Linked DNA regions of Homo sapiens. The protein of the gene in region 3 purifies or fractionates together with the protein of the main gene of each other region. This does not show direct contact. Each region holds a gene or a part of one and is shown on either strand. Other genes may lie near its edges.

Region 1 (4,418 bases), on a different chromosome or scaffold from region 3:
GTCTTATCCTTGTCCCACATTTTTTAGGTTAACTACCTTATCACTGACACAAGCAATTAGAAAAAAAAAAGAATACTGCAAGTGTAAATTCACAAAGCCCATATTCTCACCTTTAAATAATTCATGACGCCAATATTTTTCATCCGGTTAGCAAAAGTATTGAAACTCTCCATGTTGCTTTTGGGATGATAAAATAGAATTTCACTTCCGAGCTTCCAAATAATCTGTCAAAGCAGAAATTACTGCCAAAATGTAAAATTTTTGCCTTAACCAATTTCTGTCTAAGATATTGTTTTCCTGATTACAACATTAATAACCTGTGATTCCTTTTCCAGAGACCACTACCGTCAACATTTTACTCTACTTTGCCATGTAAAATTAATACTACTTCCTTATGTGATAGAATAGTTTTAACCTTTCAAATTTCTATTAAAATATCAGATAGTATAATAGCATCATTATTAATTTAGTAGTTTAAAGAAAGTAGACAGTTAAGATACATATTTAATATAAAATGTTTAATTGGTATGGAAGGAAGAATATTAAAGTCAGAAAATTTGGGTTCTAATAATATTGGCTTCTTCATTGGTCTCAGCCTCTTCTTCATCATCTGCAAAATGAGGGCAACAAACTACACATTTCCTGAGAGCCCATCAAATTCTACAACTATTGACTACATTTATTCTATATTTAGAATGCCAATTTAAGAATTTTGATTAGCTATGGACAAATCTTAATAAAAAAATATTTTATCCTCAGATCACCAAAACTTTGGCGGCAGAACTTGGAGCTCTTTTTTCATGAGAGCAAATCTCTATTTCGCTAACCTCAATTTAAAGTAATCAATAATACCAACTTCAAAGTAAATTAAACTGAACTGTAAATCAATTATTTCTATGAACATACATATTGGTTATATGTGGATACACACACTATCACTGCTATAGTTATATATGATACACATATTATCATTTGATATAAGGATCCTCATCTTCCCAACTCAGAGATATCAAGATTTCATTTGTAGAATATCACACTGTAGTATTTGGGAGCTTAAAGAAAACCTGGGTCTTGGATCACCTACCACCAGGGATGGGTAAATGCAGGGGGGGAAGAAAAGCAGGAAAAAAAAAAAAAAGAAAACTTTGAGATTATGATAGCTATTCTCACCACCAGTGTACACAGTAATTACATGGGACACCAGTTAAAAATAGGTATTCTGGGCCAGGCGCGGTGGCTCACACCTGTAATCCCAGGATTTTGGGAGGCCGAGGCGGGTGGATCACGAGGTCAGGAGAGTGAGACCATCCTGGCTAACACGGTGAAACCCCGTCTCTACTAAAAATACAAAAAATTAGCCAGGCGTCGTGGCGGGAGGCGGAGCTTGCAGCGAGCCAAGATCGTGCCACTGCACTCCAGCCTGGGTGACAAAGTGAGTGAGACTCCATCTCAAAAAATAAAAAAATACAAATAAAAGATACTCTGACTCAATAGACAGGGGTGGAGTAAAGGAATTTATACTTTGAATGAAAGCCCTAGGTGATCCAAAGAGAGCCAAAGAAGTGCTCAAAAACCACTGATCCAATTCCTTCATTTTACAAAACAAAATCTGGACAACAAGAGGCTGTAACATGTTCAATGTTTTACAGGAGTATGTAACTTAAGTCCATAAATTAAATTTTCAATGAATGGTTAAACTTTTTTTTCAGCTTCTCTTTTTTATTTTTTTTGCTCTAGAAGATAACTAATTGATGCAATGGTGACTGTGTTAGTAAAACCTATGAGACACTCATGTCAAGTTATTTGTGGGTAAACTGTCTTTTACTGAAGAAATTTAGCAGTATATGCCAGGCACTGTTTTAACCCTGCCCTGTGAAATTTACATTCTATGTAGAGAGACAAACAATAACCAAGAAATATAATTAAATTGTCAACTGTTAGAGGAAAAGAATGCAGCAGGACAAGGAGATCAGGAGTGCCATTCAGAAAGTGCAGGTTGCAGTTGGAGTAAGGCAATTGCAATTTTAAATAGTCAAAGTAGGCCTCAATGAAAAGGGGCCTTGAAGGAGGGTAGCTGCAGTGATAGCTGAAGAAAGAGCTTTCCAAGAACTGGTTAAGGCAAAGGCAATCAGTCAGGAATATGCCTGGCCCATTCAAGTAAGAACAAGGAGACCAGTGAGGATGGAAAAGAAAAAACAAGCAGGATAATACAGGTTGAGTATCCCTTATCTGAAATCGTTGGGACCAGAAATGTTTCAGACTTGAAATTGTTTCCGCTTTTTAAATATTTGTATATACATAATGAGACTGGGGATAGGACCAAAGGCTAAACATGAAATTCACTTATGTTTCATATACACCTATACATATAGCCTGAAGGTAATTTTATATAATATTCTTAAAATTTTGTGCATGAAACAAAATTTGTATACATTGAACCATTAGAAAGCAAAGGTGTCACTATCTCATGTCAGTAATGAAAAAGCTTTGAAGCATTCTGGTTTTCACATTTTTGAATTCGGAATGCTCCACCTGTTTCAGGAGATGAAGTCAGAGAGGTCAAACAAGGAAAGGAAGTGAGCACATCACATAGGAATTTATAGGCAATTATGACTTTGGCTTTTACTGAATGAAATGGAAAGCTATTACAGTGTTTTCAGCAGAGGAGTGACATGATCTGATATGTTTTAAAAAGCTCACTCTGAATCATTAGTCATTAGAGAAATGCAAATCATAACCAGGATGATGCCACTTCACAACCACAAGGATGACTATTATCAGTAAGACAGGACAATAACAAAATATTGGCAAGGATTAGAGAAATTAGAAGCCTCAGATATTGCTGGTGAGAATATAAATGGTATGGCCACTTTGGAAAACAGTCTGGCAGTTCCTCAAGAGGCTAAACATAGTGTTACCATATGACCAGCAATTCCACTCCCAGGTGTAGACCCAGGAGAAATTAAAACAAACGTCCACACAAAAACCTGTACACAAATGTTCGCAGAAGCATTATTTCCAATAACCGAAAAGCAAAAACAACCTAAGTGTCTAACAACTGATAAATGGACAAATAAAACATGGTATTTCCATATGACAGATTATTTGGCAATAAAAGTAATGAAGTACTTATACATGCTACAACATGGATAAACCATGAAAACATTATGCCAAGTGAAAGAAATCATTTACAAAAGGCCACATATTGTACAAAACCACTTATATGAAATGTCCAGAATAGAAAATAGATTAGGCTGGCCATAGTGGCTCACGCTTGCAATACCAGCACTTTGGGGAGGCCGAGGTGGACAGATCACTTGAGGCCAGGAGTTCAAGACCTGCCTGGCCAACAGAGTGAAACCCAGTCTCCACTAAAAATACAAAAAACTAGATAGGTGTGGTGGTGCATGCCTGCAATCCCAGCCACCCAAGAGGCTGAGGTACAAGAATCACTTGAACACAGGAGCTGGAGGTTGCAGTGAGCAGAGATCATGCCACTGCACTCCAGCCTGGGCAACAGAGCAAGACTCCGTTTCAAAAGAAAACAAAAAAAGAAAAAGAAAGTAATAGATTAGTGGCTGCCAGTGTCCGGCAGCTGTGAGGAGGAATGGGGAAGGACTGCAAGTGGGTACAGGGTTTTGGTTTCATGGGAGAAAAAAAAGGTTCTAAATTTAGAGTGTGGTAATGGTTGGTTGCACAACTCTGTAAATGTATGAAAATACATTGAATTGTACAATTTAAGTGGGTGATGGCGTATAAAAAACGTCTTGATAAAACGAAAAAAAAAAGGATCACTCTAGTTGGAAAAAGAGAACAACTCTTTCAAGAAGTTTTGCTGAAAGAGAGTAAAACAATGAAGTATAGTCTATGGGGGAAGTTTGGGTCAAGAGATGATTTTAAGATAGAATAGGCTGGGCATGGTGGCTCACACCTGTAATCCCAGCACTTTGGGAGGCCGAGGCAGGCGGATCACGAGGTCAAGAGATTGAGACCGTCCTGGCCAACCTGGTGAAACCCCGTCTCTACCAAAATACAAAAAATTAGCCGGGCGTGGTGGTACATGCCTGTAGTCCCAGCTACTCAGGAGGCTGAGGCAGGGGAATCACTTGAACCCAGGAGGTAAGAGATTGCAGTGAGCCGAGATCGCGCTACTTCACTCCAGCCTGGCGACAGAGCAAGACTCCGTCTCAAAAAAAAAAAAAAAAGATAGAATAACAAAATTTTTACATGATGATGGGAAACATCCATAAAGAGGGGGGAAAAGGAAGAATTATTGGAATGAACATTTTAGTCCCCTTTAAAATAAGAGGTAAAAAGAAGTGTGCAAAAAAGGTCCCAATACAAACTCTCCACTCAAAAGTAGTTTTAGTAGCTTTTAGCAAAATCACTGAGATTCTGTAAAAGCTACTGTAGGTGAA
Region 2 (4,360 bases), on a different chromosome or scaffold from region 3:
TCTGTGCTCAGGTTGAGCTGGGACATTCATCTTTCCCTGCCCCTGGACATTGATGCTTCTGGTTCTCATGGCGCCAGAGTAGGAAAACATAAGCTTTCAATGAATGAGGACACATTAAGACCATGCTACAGTGATTAAGAACATGAGCTTTAGAGAGAGAAGGATTAGGGTTCAAGTTCAGACTCTGCCCCTGACCAGCTGGGTGACCCTGGGCAAGCACTGTAACCTCTTAGAACCTCAAGTTATTCCACTTAATATTATGAGAATAACAACAAAACCCATCTCACAGGGATGTGGGGGGACTAAATGGAAGAATATAATCTGGACGGACCAAAGGCTGCTTACCAGCCACCAAAAGTGACCAGCAACTCAGGTGATCAGAGCATGCTAGGTTCTTTTGTGAGTATTTATGAGAGTTTTATATTTTAGAGTCTTATGAATGATATGTTGATTCTTGGTCCCAAGGACAGTGTGACAATGTGGCAATGTAAGTCAGTATAGTCGAATCTTTAATCCAGTGATTTACCTTGGAGGACAGAGCTGTCCAATAGAAATACATAATATAACACAAGCCACATGTATGATTTCACATTTTCTAGTAGCCACAATTAAAAAGGGAAAAGAAAGAGATGAAGTTCATTTGATTTAACTCAAATATATTTAAAAATTGTCATTTCAGCACACAATTAAAAAAATTATCAGTTGGCAAGAACTTGGCATTCTTTTCATTTGTACTAAGTCTTTGAAACCAAGTATATACCTTGCACTCACAGCACATGTAGATTTAGACTAGCTACATTTTAAGCATTTGATACATGTGGCTAGTGGCTGCTGTGTCACACAGGGAGGTTCTATAATTTTTCTCAGAGATATGGAGAAAGGATAAATCAAGGATGCTTATTTCAGAATTATTAGTAATAGGAAAACCATCTAACATTAAGATGTTTTGCACAAATGTCAACTCCATGAGGACAGGGATTTTTTTATTTAAAAAATTCTGGAAGTCTTGGCTCTGCAGGGTCATGAGGACAGGGATTTCTGTCTGCTTTTGTGCATTGCTATATTCCCAGTGCCCAGAGCTATGCTTGGCACATAGTAAGTGCTCAATAAATATTTCTTGTTGAATCAATGTATATACACACACAATACCCCTAGATATGCATCTGTACTTCTTGGCTCTGTGCCTTGAAGTTAATAAACACCCAATAAATGGTATTTGCTTTATTTTTATTGTTATTGATAATACATTAGACATTACCCTCCCATCAGGTGCACAGAAGAAAGTCAAGGCTGGAATTTCATTCTCTTATCTAAATCTCTCTGTTCTCTCTCAGGGAATATTTTCAGAGAATAGGTGGAATGAAGTGAGGCTGTGGAGAATGTTATCTATGATAGGATAGAGGGCATAGAAGGCCAGGAGTCAGGAGACCTGGGTTCTGTCCTGGATTATACACCAGCTCACTGAGGAGCTTTGTCCTCTCTGGATCAAGAGTCCCACCTGAAAATGAAGGAACTGGTCCAGATAACACTGGAGCCCTTTCCCCCAAGATGCACTGGCATTCAGAGGATGGTGCAGGTCCAGTCCTCTTCTGCCTGTGGGGTGGATGCTGCCTGGAGTGTGCTGGGTCTATGAGAGAAATGAGGGTACTCATGTGTTCCAATGTAACCATATTTCTGATACCTCCTGGGATCGTCGGTCTCATCGTCTGCACTGTTGCTTTCAGCCTGAAAGGGTGAGACACATGATCACATCAGGGAGTCTTCCTGCATTGCAGCTGGATTCAGTGAGCATTTACGGTAGACACTGTGACATGCCATCTGGATCCCCCTTTGAGGAAGGACTAACAAGCCCCAGCTGCTGGGACAGTGGTCAGCAGACAGACTTCAGCCGTCAGCCCTTTTAGGGGTTGCCTCAGCTGCAGAGAGCCTTTTGCTCAAAGCCATGCCCTTTCCCAAGGTGCCCAAGCACAGTGAGTGATCCACGTAGGGGTATAGAAGCCTGGCCACCTCTGTCACCATGGGGCAGCTCTAAAGGCCATTCCAGCTCCAGGGCTGTCCTTGGAGTTGGCTGAAACTGGCATTCGCTCTGCATCCCTGTTCACTTCTCCCTATTCTCTTTCATGCTTCCTTCCTATCCTTTCTTCCCCCCTTTCCCTGAGTGCTGGTTCCAGTGGCTCTCCCCCAGAACATCCTGCATACTAAATTCCATCCTGGAGTCTGCTTCCTAGCCATCTGCAACATCATCAATCCCCTGGAATCAGACAGATTCCTGCTTGGAGGTGGAAAGATCCAAGACTGGGTCCTTTGCCCCTGTTTAGCTGTGTGACAACCCAAGTCACTCAGCTGCTCAGAGTCTCCCATTGGTCAGATGAGAGGTGGGGATGTGACAAGGCAGGCTGTTTAGCACAGTGACATGAGCACTGGCTTTAGAGTCCACTGAGCTTGAATTCCATTTCCACCACTTGTTAGCTGATGTCCTTGAGCAAGTGACCTCACCTCTCTGAGCCTTTGTCTCATCTGTAAGATGGGAATGATAGAAAACATGCCTCATGGGACTTTTCAAATAACTAAAAGTAGAATGTCCATTCAACCCAGCAATCCCACTACTCGGTATCTACCCAAAGGTAAAGAAATCATTCTATCAAAAGACACCGGCACTCGTATGTTTATCGCAGTACGATTCACAATAGCAAAGTCATGGAATCAACTTAAGTGCCCATCAGTGTGAACTGGATAAAGAAAGTGTGGTATATCTACACCATGGAGTATTATGCAGCCATAAGAAAGAATGAAATCATGGTTGCAGCTGGAGGCCATTATCCGAAGTGAATTAACCCAGAAACAGAAAATCAAATACTTAACATCTGCTAAAGATGGGAACAATAGACACTAGGGACTCCAACAGGGAGGAGGAAGGGAGAAAGGCAAAGGTTGAAAAAATTCTTTTTGGGTACTCTGTTCACTATTTGGGCGACAGGATCAATAGAGGCCCAAACCCCACCATTACACAATATAGCTGTGTAACAAATGGCACATGTGCCCTCTGAATCTAAAATAATAAAAAATTTTTAAAAATGCCTCATGGGATTGTTGTGACTATTTAATGAGAGAGTGCATATTAAAGGGCTTAGGACAGAACCTGAGCCCGAAGCAGACAGTCAATAAATGGTGTTAGAGATTATTTATTATTACTCTTAGGGGAATGAATTCTGGACAAGGGATGTGAAAATTCCAGAAACCCTCGATTGTGACCAAAATGACTGTAAAATATGGAGCACAGCCTGTCACTATATGAATATAAATGGCCTTTGGCAAGAGGTAAGTTCTTTGGAAAGAATGGTCTCCAGCTATATGTCTCAAGCTTCATGGAGAGGGGCAGGGATGAATGGCAGGGAGGAAGCAGGAGGTCTCACCAGCAGAATCCAGGAGCTCACTGGGGACCCATCCCAATTCTTAAAGCATGGGTAATTCAGCCAGGCCTCAGCCTCTTGTGCCAGCTGCCTCCAACCCTTTGGGTCTCCACCACCCAAGTTTCCTGTAGGGTCCGCCGGGTCCAGGATCACAGGCCTGCAGAGCAGCATTTAGAGAGGGACAGGTGAGAAGCTGGGGCTCTGTCTAGGGAGTCCAGATGCTCCTGGGAGAGCAAAATAGCAGCATGGGATGAACTGGGACTCAGAACATGAGGAAGGGCTCCCTGGGGTATGTCCCCAGTGCCCTATTCCCCAGCAGGCAGTGAGCATGAGGAGAAGGAGCCTTGCACTTGCACCTGACAGATGTGGGTTTGAATCCCACCTCTGCCCTTTATCAGTGATGTGCCCTTGGGTAGGTCACTTGAACTCTCTAAGCCTCAGGATTCTTATCTGTAAAATGGGAATAGTTCCACATACCTATCTCAAAGGCTATGCTGTGAGGATAGAAAAAGCCCAGTTATATGAAATGCTCAGCACAGCGACTAGAACATAACATACATATCAGTAATATTGCTAATAATTTTTACTATTATATTAGCATGTGTTAGTCTTACAACAAGCTTTCAATACCTGGGAGCAATTACTATCATTGTTGTTGCTGCTGTTCTTATTTCAGTTCAAACTGCAGCTATTTTACTCATTTTCTGTTAAGGGTTGGACAAGCTCCTTACCTCTCAGAACCTCAGTTTACTCACCTGTAAAATAATTGGCATAGTGCCTGCCTCACAGGGTTGGAGGTAGGTGTTTAAAACAGATGGCAGTAGTAAAATGCCCAGTACAATGATGGGCAACAGGAGATTCTCACTAAGTGGGGAGCCCTCCCACCTCCTCCATTTCCAAGGCACTGTACCTGTATCCAGGTGTTCATTTACATAGGGGAGCTAAGCCAT
Region 3 (4,418 bases):
TAGAAAGGAACATGCATGGCTTTGTTCCAGTAAAACTTTATTTACAAAAGCAGTCAGCAGGCCATAGTTTGCCAGCCTCCTCTGGAAAGAACAGTTAGAGAGAAAGGTAGTGCCTTGAATGCCAGTCTAAGAAACGTATATTTTATTTCCTCAATGACAGAGGATTTTAAAAAATCACTTTTATCACCCTGGAGAACCCAGTTTATGTGTGTAATATGCCCTCTTTTGTCATCAGATTTCATCTAACTTACTATTAAAAGTTGCCAAGAAAGCTAAGCTGTGGCCTCAAGCAGATGGCTGAAAAAATAACGCAGTAAGATTTGCTTTCCAATGCCTTAAGAGTTTGCATTTGTGTACTTTGAGTCAGTTGGGCTAAGAGGGAAATAGCAGTTTGTTCTTCGTACTCTGATAGATGGGATGATGGGCTCCATGGGTAAGGGAGGTTAGGACAAGCCACTGAATACAGTTGGGGGAAATGTCTGCAAGTCCATATTATTTTTTGTCTGATTTGCAAGACCTGTTTCTTGTAGATTTGATCATAACCCTGAGAAATATTGGCAGACTAGTCTGTCAGGGAGTAATATTCTACCCAAACTCACACAGGAACATTTTGAATGCTGCTGAGAGTCCAAAGTCAATAGGGTTGCCAGGATGAGCAAATAAAAATCTAGTTAAATCCAGGACACCCAGTTAAATTGGAATTTGCTCAACAAAAAAAGTAAGTATAATTATATCCCATTCACTATTTGGGACATTCATAAACTAAAAAATTATTTGTTGTTTATCTGAAATTCAAACTTAGCTGGGAATCCTGTATTATACCTGGCAATCCTAAAAATGAAGATAAATGAATAGTTTCTTGCACTACATAAATTACATCATTATGTCACTTGATTAGTACCCTTCACCAATGATTTTTTTTTTAATTGTGGGAGTCTAATGACAGTTGAATCTCATTACTTCCAACCTCACTGTTTTAGAATTTTGATTATTTATGCAAGAGCTATGCTAAAGTGCACTTTATTCTCTTCATGAATTTAGGAAGCCTATTTGTCATTGATAGTACAAATAAAACTGAAAGAAAACTATTTATCTCCTTGGGATACTACAAATAGTATAATTACCTTTTAACCAGAAGCTATCATTATTTAGAATCTGCTTTTCATTTAATAATTATAGATCATTCACAGTTGTTCATTGAAATAAGTCAAGACTTTACCAGACAGAGTCAGGTGCAGCCACCTAAGTCCTGATGGCCCGCTTTGCGTCCCATCTGCTCCAGTTCACAGTGTGTCTTGCCAGTCTCTCCTATACCATTGTGTTTGTTTTGTTCCTTATCCGCTCTAGAGCCTCACACAATGCTTGCTACTGAGAAGGCACACTGTAAATGTTGACTAGTTGTGGCTGGGAGGCCGAGTTGGGTGGATCCCTTGAGCCCAGGAGTTCGAGACCAGCATACGTAACATGACAAAACCTCATCTCTACAAAAAAAAACAAAAATTAACCCGGTGTGGTGACACATACCTGTGGTCCCAGCTACTTGGGAGGCTGAGGTGGGAGGATGGCTTGAGCCCCAGGAGGTCGAGGCTGCAGTGAGCCATGATCATGCCACTGCACTCCAGCCTGGGCAATAGAGCAAGATCCTCTCTCGAAAAAAAAAATTACTAGTTGAATTAATGAATAAATACTCTCTGCCTATGTTAAAATAATCAAGCTGTCTTTGTTTCAAAATTTTCTTACATTTTAAATTTTAAAAATAATTTGAGTTGGTCTTTCCCTATTCCAAATTTTAGTACTTAAAGGGAATTTTGGGTGTTTCATTGCATAGGGCCTTTCAGAGGATAACAATGAAAACATGTTCCTGAACTTGCAAATATATATTACAAGGAGAGAGATGGAGAAGTGCTGGTAAAATCACGTGAGCATCCCTGTGAGCTTTCTTCTGGTATAGGACCGTGGGTCTCAAACTATCAGGATGCTAATGATATCAGCAGGGTGGAGCATTCAGTCTTCCTTACTTGCCCCTACTGGCCATGATCATGGATGTATGTATATACATAGATATACATACATACATACATACATACATAGATATATAGATATACTTAAATAAATCCCCATATGTCTTCCAAGGAGATGGAAGGGATTTCATTTGACTGGATACCAATTACGGCTATTAATGATAAATAATACATTAGTGACTTGAAACAAATGTGTAGACATTCACACACTTTAAGCCACATTTCTATCATTAGAGATTACTATATACAAGCCATCTGAAAGACCCTTGAGAACTACCAGTGAATTCTGGAGCACTCTTGAGGGAAATTAGACATGAATGGTTTGCTTGTGGAACAGGTAACACCAGAATTTCTATTGCCTGAAAACATACTCAAGTGAACTTGTTCTCAGTTTCCATCAGTAGCTTTTTTCTTCTCTATTTTCTCCAGCAGAGTAAAAGGATTCCCAGGAACCATGAGATTGGGTATTAAATCTCCGTCTTTCTTCTCAGTCTTACCCACGTCCATGAAGCACCTTTTCCTAGCAGTCGATGATAATTTAGGAGGCTGCGCTGAATCCATGTCAGGGCTGACACAGCTGGGCATGCAGTTCCTTGGATATGATCCTTTCTTCTAAGAGAGTCAAGTCATGGTCTGACTATTCCTTTTTGTTTTTCCTTTCCTCACAGCACCCTGGAGGGGTATTATGTGGATGATGCCTTGCAGGGCCAGGGAGTTTACACTTACGAAGATGGGGGAGTTCTCCAGGGCACGTATGTAGACGGAGAGCTGAACGGTCCAGCCCAGGAATATGACACAGATGGGAGACTGATCTTCAAGGGGCAGTATAAAGATAACATTCGTCATGGAGTGTGCTGGATATATTACCCAGTAAGCCGTGTGACTGTTCACTCTGCTGGAAAGTAACATACTGTGACTCTTCACAATGAAGAGTAAAATGTATTCTGTGTTAGAACTTGGGAGCTGTGAAACCTGAGAGTCACCACAGCTGACACCAAGAGTTTATGAGGCATGCCCTCTCACTGTTACTCACTATTGGCTTAGATTGTTGGCCCTTGAATCCGTTATTAATTATTTTTCAGCGTTGTTTTGGAAAGGAGTAATTAATCATGATTAAAACAAATTGAGACAAATTGGTTTTATTGTATCACTAATAAAGGCAAAATATATTGCTTTTAATTCTTTTGGCACATAGAGGGAGATAGTGGAAATTTTCATTGTTGCTATTAGTTTTATTTCCTGTTTCTCATATGTAAAAACCAGTCCAGCAATTTTTAATTTGGGAGAGCTTACTGCACTGTTGTTACTTGATTCTACAATTCCACTAACTGCTTTTTAAGGTATTTTATGGTTTATATTGTTTAAATTAAGGTGATTAAAATTAACTTACCTTTGAGTATTTGATAGCATTTTATGATATTTCTGGAGTCTATTAAAGTAAAAAGATATGGCAGAACCCATGGTTGGAAATTAATGCTCTAATTTTTGTTTGCATTTCAAATGTCCCATCTGTTGTTACTGAATTTCCAGAAAATGTTACAGAAAATACACCTTAGAAAACACTTTATCTTTATTTTATTTTATTTTTTATTTATTGAGACAGGGTCTTGTTCTGTTGCCCAGGCTGGAGTGCAGTGGCACGATCTTGGCTCACTACAACCTCCATCTCCCAGACTCAAGCCATCTTCCCACCTCAGCCTCCTTAGTAGCTGGGATTACAGGCCTATGTCATCACATCTGGCTAATATTTTTGTGTTTTCTTTTTTGAGACAGGGTTTCTCTAAAACCTAGTCTCGAACTCCTGGGCTCAAGCAATCCACCTGCCTTGGCCTCCTGAAATGCTGAAATTACAGGCATGAGCCATTGCACCTGGCTAGAAAATATTTTGCTTAATACTTTATTTTGTTCATAACTTAAGTCAAAATACTCTTTTTTTGTTTTGAGACAGAGTCTTGCTCTGTTGCCCAGGATGAGGTGCAGTGGTGCCATGTCGGCTTACTGCAACCTCTGCCTCGTGGGTTCAAGTGATTCTTCTGCCTCAGCCTCCCAAGTAGCTGGGATTGCAGGCACAGGCCACTACGCCCGGCTAATTTTTTTGTATTTTTAGTAAAATGGGGTTTCACCATGTTGACCAGGCACTGGTCTCAAACTCCCGACCTCAGATGATTTCCTTGCCTCGGCCTCCCAAAGTGCTGGGATTACAGGTGCGAGCCACCACACCAAGCTGAAAATATATTTTTACTCTGAAACCTTATGATTAAAAAGTGCTAATAAAAAGAAATGATCAGTTACATATATAACAAGAAAAGTAACCCCAGCTAAATCCACTTACACATCATTGTTCTTAAAAAATAAGTTATAATCTAGGAATAGGGCATAAGAAAAGAATGTTGTAAA
Region 4 (3,723 bases), on a different chromosome or scaffold from region 3:
TAAAGGGACACTCCTGCTTCACAACATACCTAAAAATATTTCCAAATGGATTGCACACCTAAATGTGAAAGGCAAAATAATGAAAGTTGTTAGAGGATATAGAAGAGCCAGGCATGAGGCTCACGCTTGTAATCCCAGCACTTTGGGAGGCAGGCAGATTGCTTGAGTCCAGGCATTCAAAACCAGCCTGGGAAACATAGCCAAACCTCATCTCTACTAAAAATACAAAAAATTAGCTGGGTGTGGTGCATGCCTGTAGTCCCAGCTACTTGGGAGGCTGAGGTGGGAGGATCACCTGAGCCCCAGAGGTTGAAGCTGCAATGAGCCGAGATCACACCACTGCACTGCAGCCTGGGCAGTCAATCCTGTCTCATAAAAACGAAGAAGATAATAGAGGAACCATCTTTATGACCATAAGAGGACAGGATTTCTTAAGCCCTAAAAAGTACTGATTATTAATTTAAAGGTAGATAATATGAACTACATTATAATTGAGGATGTTTATGTAATAAAAATCATGAGAGTAAAATAGTGAGCCTAAGTAGGAGAATATATTTGAAACAAAGGACTTATCTGGAGCCGAGTGCAGTGACTCACACCTGTAATCCCAGCACTTTGGGAGGCCAAGGCGGCTGGATCACGAGGGCAGGAGTTTTAGACCAGCCTGGCCAACATAGTGAAACCCCATCTCTACTAAAAATACAAAAAAAAAAATTAGCTGGGCGTGTTGGGCACCTGTAATCCCAGCTACTTGGGAGGGTGAGGCAGGACAATCGCTTGAACTCAGGAGGCAGAGGTTGAAGTGAGCTGAGAACGTGCCACTGCACTCCAGCCTGGGAAAGATTGCGAGACTCCCTCTCAAAAAAAAAAACAAAAAACAAACAAACAAAAAACTCATCTGTGGAATATAGATCATCATCGTAAGGGAATTTTTTTTTAAATTGGGCAAAAAGCCTGGACAACATAGCAAGACCCTATCTCTATCAAAAAATTAGCTGGGCAGGGCCAGGCGTGGTGGCTCCCACCTGTAATCCCAGCACTTTGGGAGGCTGAGGCGGGCAGATCACTTGAGATTAGGAGTTCAAGACCAGCCTGGCAAACATGGCAAAACTCCATCTCTAAAAACAAGTACCAAAAAAAATTAGCTGGGTGTGGTGGCACACACCTATAATCCCAGCTGCTCCTGAGGCTGAGGCAGGAGAATTGCTTGAACTCAGGAGGCAGAGGTTGCAGTGAACCGAGATTGCGCCACTGCATTCCAACCTGGGTGACAGAGCAAGACTCCATCAAAAAAAAAAAAAAAAAAAAAAAGGCTGAGCGTGGTGGCATACTTGGGAAGCTGAGGCAGGATGATCTGTTAAGCCCAGACAGCTGTGATTGTGCCACTGCACTACAGCCTGGGTTACAGAGGGAAACCTTGTCTATTAAAAAAAGAAACAATCATGCAGAAGTGTGCACACAGAGACACACACACGTAGAAAAGGGCCCATAAGGTCTTCAGTTTAACTTCTAATGAAAATCAGCAGAAACTCATAGAACCTTCAGATTGAATAATTAGCTAGAATGGTTCATAAAACTCGGTAAAGTGTAGTACTTAACAATGACAGTTTTATAAAGGATGCAGATCAGGACCAGCCATAAGATAGAAGTGGGCCCAGGAGGGTCCTGAATGCAGAGCTTCTGTGCCTCCTCCCTATGAAAGCAGGGCACGTCACCCTCCCGGCACACCCATGTGTTCACCAACCGGGAAGTGCCACTGAACTTCCACACCCAGCATTTTTATTGGGGTTTATTTATGCAGGCAAGATTGATCAAATCGTTGGTCATGTGTTAGAACTCAATCTCCAGCCAACCTCCCCTCCCCAGAGTTGACGTGGGCTCCAAGCCCCAGCCCCTGATCCCATGGTTGGTCTTTGTGGTGAGCAGCCCCATCCTGAATCATCTCATAACATAAATCCAGATGTGATCCAAGGGCATCAGAAATAACAAAGACACTCTTGTTACCCAGGAAATTCCAAGGATTCGGCATTTCCCTCCCAGGAACCAGGGGGAAAGGCCAGTCAGATTCTTGAGCATACCACAGTAGTGCACTGAGTTCATCTGAAAGTGAACAGAGCCTGCGGGCCACCCCTCATGTTTCAGTGGGGACGGTCACTTCTCATGCTGACCAACTTCAAGGACATTAAAACATCTTTTCTTTCCTTCAACAGACTGAGCAAGTGGAGTAGCAGAACCAGGAGCCTCTTCCATACATGAGGTGAGGGTTGGGGGACATTGCCAGGTCTTTCTGTTTCCCACTCGGGCTCTTGCAGGGGGCTGGGTGGCCAAGGTGGAGAGCACAGCTCTGGAGTCCGTCTGCCAGGGTTGGAATCCTGCCTCTTCACTTTCTGTGTGGAAGCAAGCACATTACTTCACCTCTCTGTGTCTTCATTTATTCATCTATGAAATGAGGATAATATTAACAAGAGCATGGTGGTGAGAATTAATCATCATCCAAGAGCCTGGCTCATAATAAGCGCACAATAGTATTGTTATTTTCATTATGAACCATGAAATATTTCAGCTGAAAGGGACCTGGAGGCCATCAAGCCCAACTCCCTGTTTACTGATAAGGAAGCTGGTCCCAGAGGGAGCAGGTCGTTTGTCAGGACCATAGTCCATAGGCAAGGAAACCCAGAACTCAAGAGTGGCTGTTTACTTCTGGTTACCTGTTCAGCCAGGGCCCCAGCCACCCATCCCCACCTCCAGTGGCTTTCTTCGTGTGCTGGACTTGCAGATGTTTTTGCCCTACTGCAATTTTTGTTTGTTTGTTTGTTTCTTGGTTGGTTTTTCAAGTTTGCCCTTGCTTGTTTTAATGTATTATGGATGGCTTATGTGAGTAACCTATATTGTCTCATTGGACTAAGTGCTACATTGTAGACAAGGCCAGCCTTGCCTTCTCAGCCCTTTTTCTATCTGAGTATGTGGCCCTCATCAGGCACATGTCCAGGGACACCAGCTCATGAGTGGCAAAGCTGGTTTCTCAGCCCAGATCTCCAGGTGCAGCTGCTCAGAGTTCATACCCTTGTCCCAGACTTTCAGTCTCTGCTTATCCACCCAAACTTTCTTAAGATCAGTTTTGCTCCAAATGATGTGGCAAAGCCTTTGATCAGTTGTAACTTGAACAGCCTTTTCAAAAAATCTGATATTGGCTGGGCATGGTGGCTCATGCCTGTAATCCCAGCACTTTGGGAGGCCAAGGTGGGCAGATCACAAGGTCAGGAGTTCGAGACCAGCCTGGCCAACATAGTGAAACCTCGTCTCTACTAAAAATACAAAAATTAGCTGGGTGTGGTGGCAGGGACCTGTAATCCCAGCTACTTGGGAGGCTGAGGCAGGAGAATCACTTGAACCCAAGAGGTGGATGTTACAGTAAGCCGAAATCGTGCCATTGCACTCCAGCCTGGGTGACAAGAGAGAGACTTCGTCTCAAAAAAAAAAAATTGGCTGGGCGTGGTGGTGGGCACTTATAGTCCCAGCTACTCGGGAGGCTGAAGGAAGAGAATTGCTTGAAGCCAGGAGGCAGAGAGGTTGCAGTGAGCCGAGATTGCAGCACTGCACTCTAGCCTGGGTGACAGAGCGAGACTTCGTCTCAAAAATAAATAAATAAATAAATAAAAATAAAATCTGATATTGATAGTGATTTTTTCTCATAGTTTACTTGCTGACCTTTGTTTTTTTTTT

What was found.
Region 1: the proteins of SETD7 (region 3) and TAF1A purify together in Homo sapiens (co-immunoprecipitation; one large-scale study listed by IntAct). This does not show direct contact.
Region 2: the proteins of SETD7 (region 3) and OAS1 purify together in Homo sapiens (co-immunoprecipitation; one large-scale study listed by IntAct). This does not show direct contact.
Region 4: the proteins of SETD7 (region 3) and TPST1 purify together in Homo sapiens (co-immunoprecipitation; one large-scale study listed by IntAct). This does not show direct contact.

The regions. Positions count from the first base shown.
Region 1 is NC_000001.11:222,579,649-222,584,066, forward strand, and holds part of TAF1A (TATA box-binding protein-associated factor RNA polymerase I subunit A), read right to left. Parts: intron 243-4,418; exon of another isoform or gene 225-242; coding exon 111-224; intron 1-110. UniProt on the Homo sapiens protein: Component of the transcription factor SL1/TIF-IB complex, which is involved in the assembly of the PIC (pre-initiation complex) during RNA polymerase I-dependent transcription.
Region 2 is NC_000012.12:112,916,754-112,921,113, reverse strand, and holds the end of OAS1 (2'-5'-oligoadenylate synthase 1), read right to left. Parts: intron 3,568-4,360; coding exon 3,414-3,567; coding exon of another isoform or gene 3,357-3,413; exon of another isoform or gene 2,518-3,356; coding exon of another isoform or gene 2,401-2,517; exon of another isoform or gene 1,726-2,400; coding exon 1,561-1,725; coding exon of another isoform or gene 1,421-1,560; 3' UTR 1,211-1,420; downstream 1-1,210.
Region 3 is NC_000004.12:139,531,638-139,536,055, reverse strand, and holds part of SETD7 (histone-lysine N-methyltransferase SETD7), read left to right. Parts: intron 1-2,689; coding exon 2,690-2,891; coding exon of another isoform or gene 2,892-2,927; exon of another isoform or gene 2,928-3,491; intron 3,492-4,418. UniProt on the Homo sapiens protein: Histone methyltransferase that specifically monomethylates 'Lys-4' of histone H3. H3 'Lys-4' methylation represents a specific tag for epigenetic transcriptional activation.
Region 4 is NC_000007.14:66,354,615-66,358,337, forward strand, and holds part of TPST1 (protein-tyrosine sulfotransferase 1), read left to right. Parts: intron 1-2,210; coding exon 2,211-2,228; 3' UTR 2,229-2,257; intron 2,258-3,723. UniProt on the Homo sapiens protein: Catalyzes the O-sulfation of tyrosine residues within acidic motifs of polypeptides, using 3'-phosphoadenylyl sulfate (PAPS) as cosubstrate.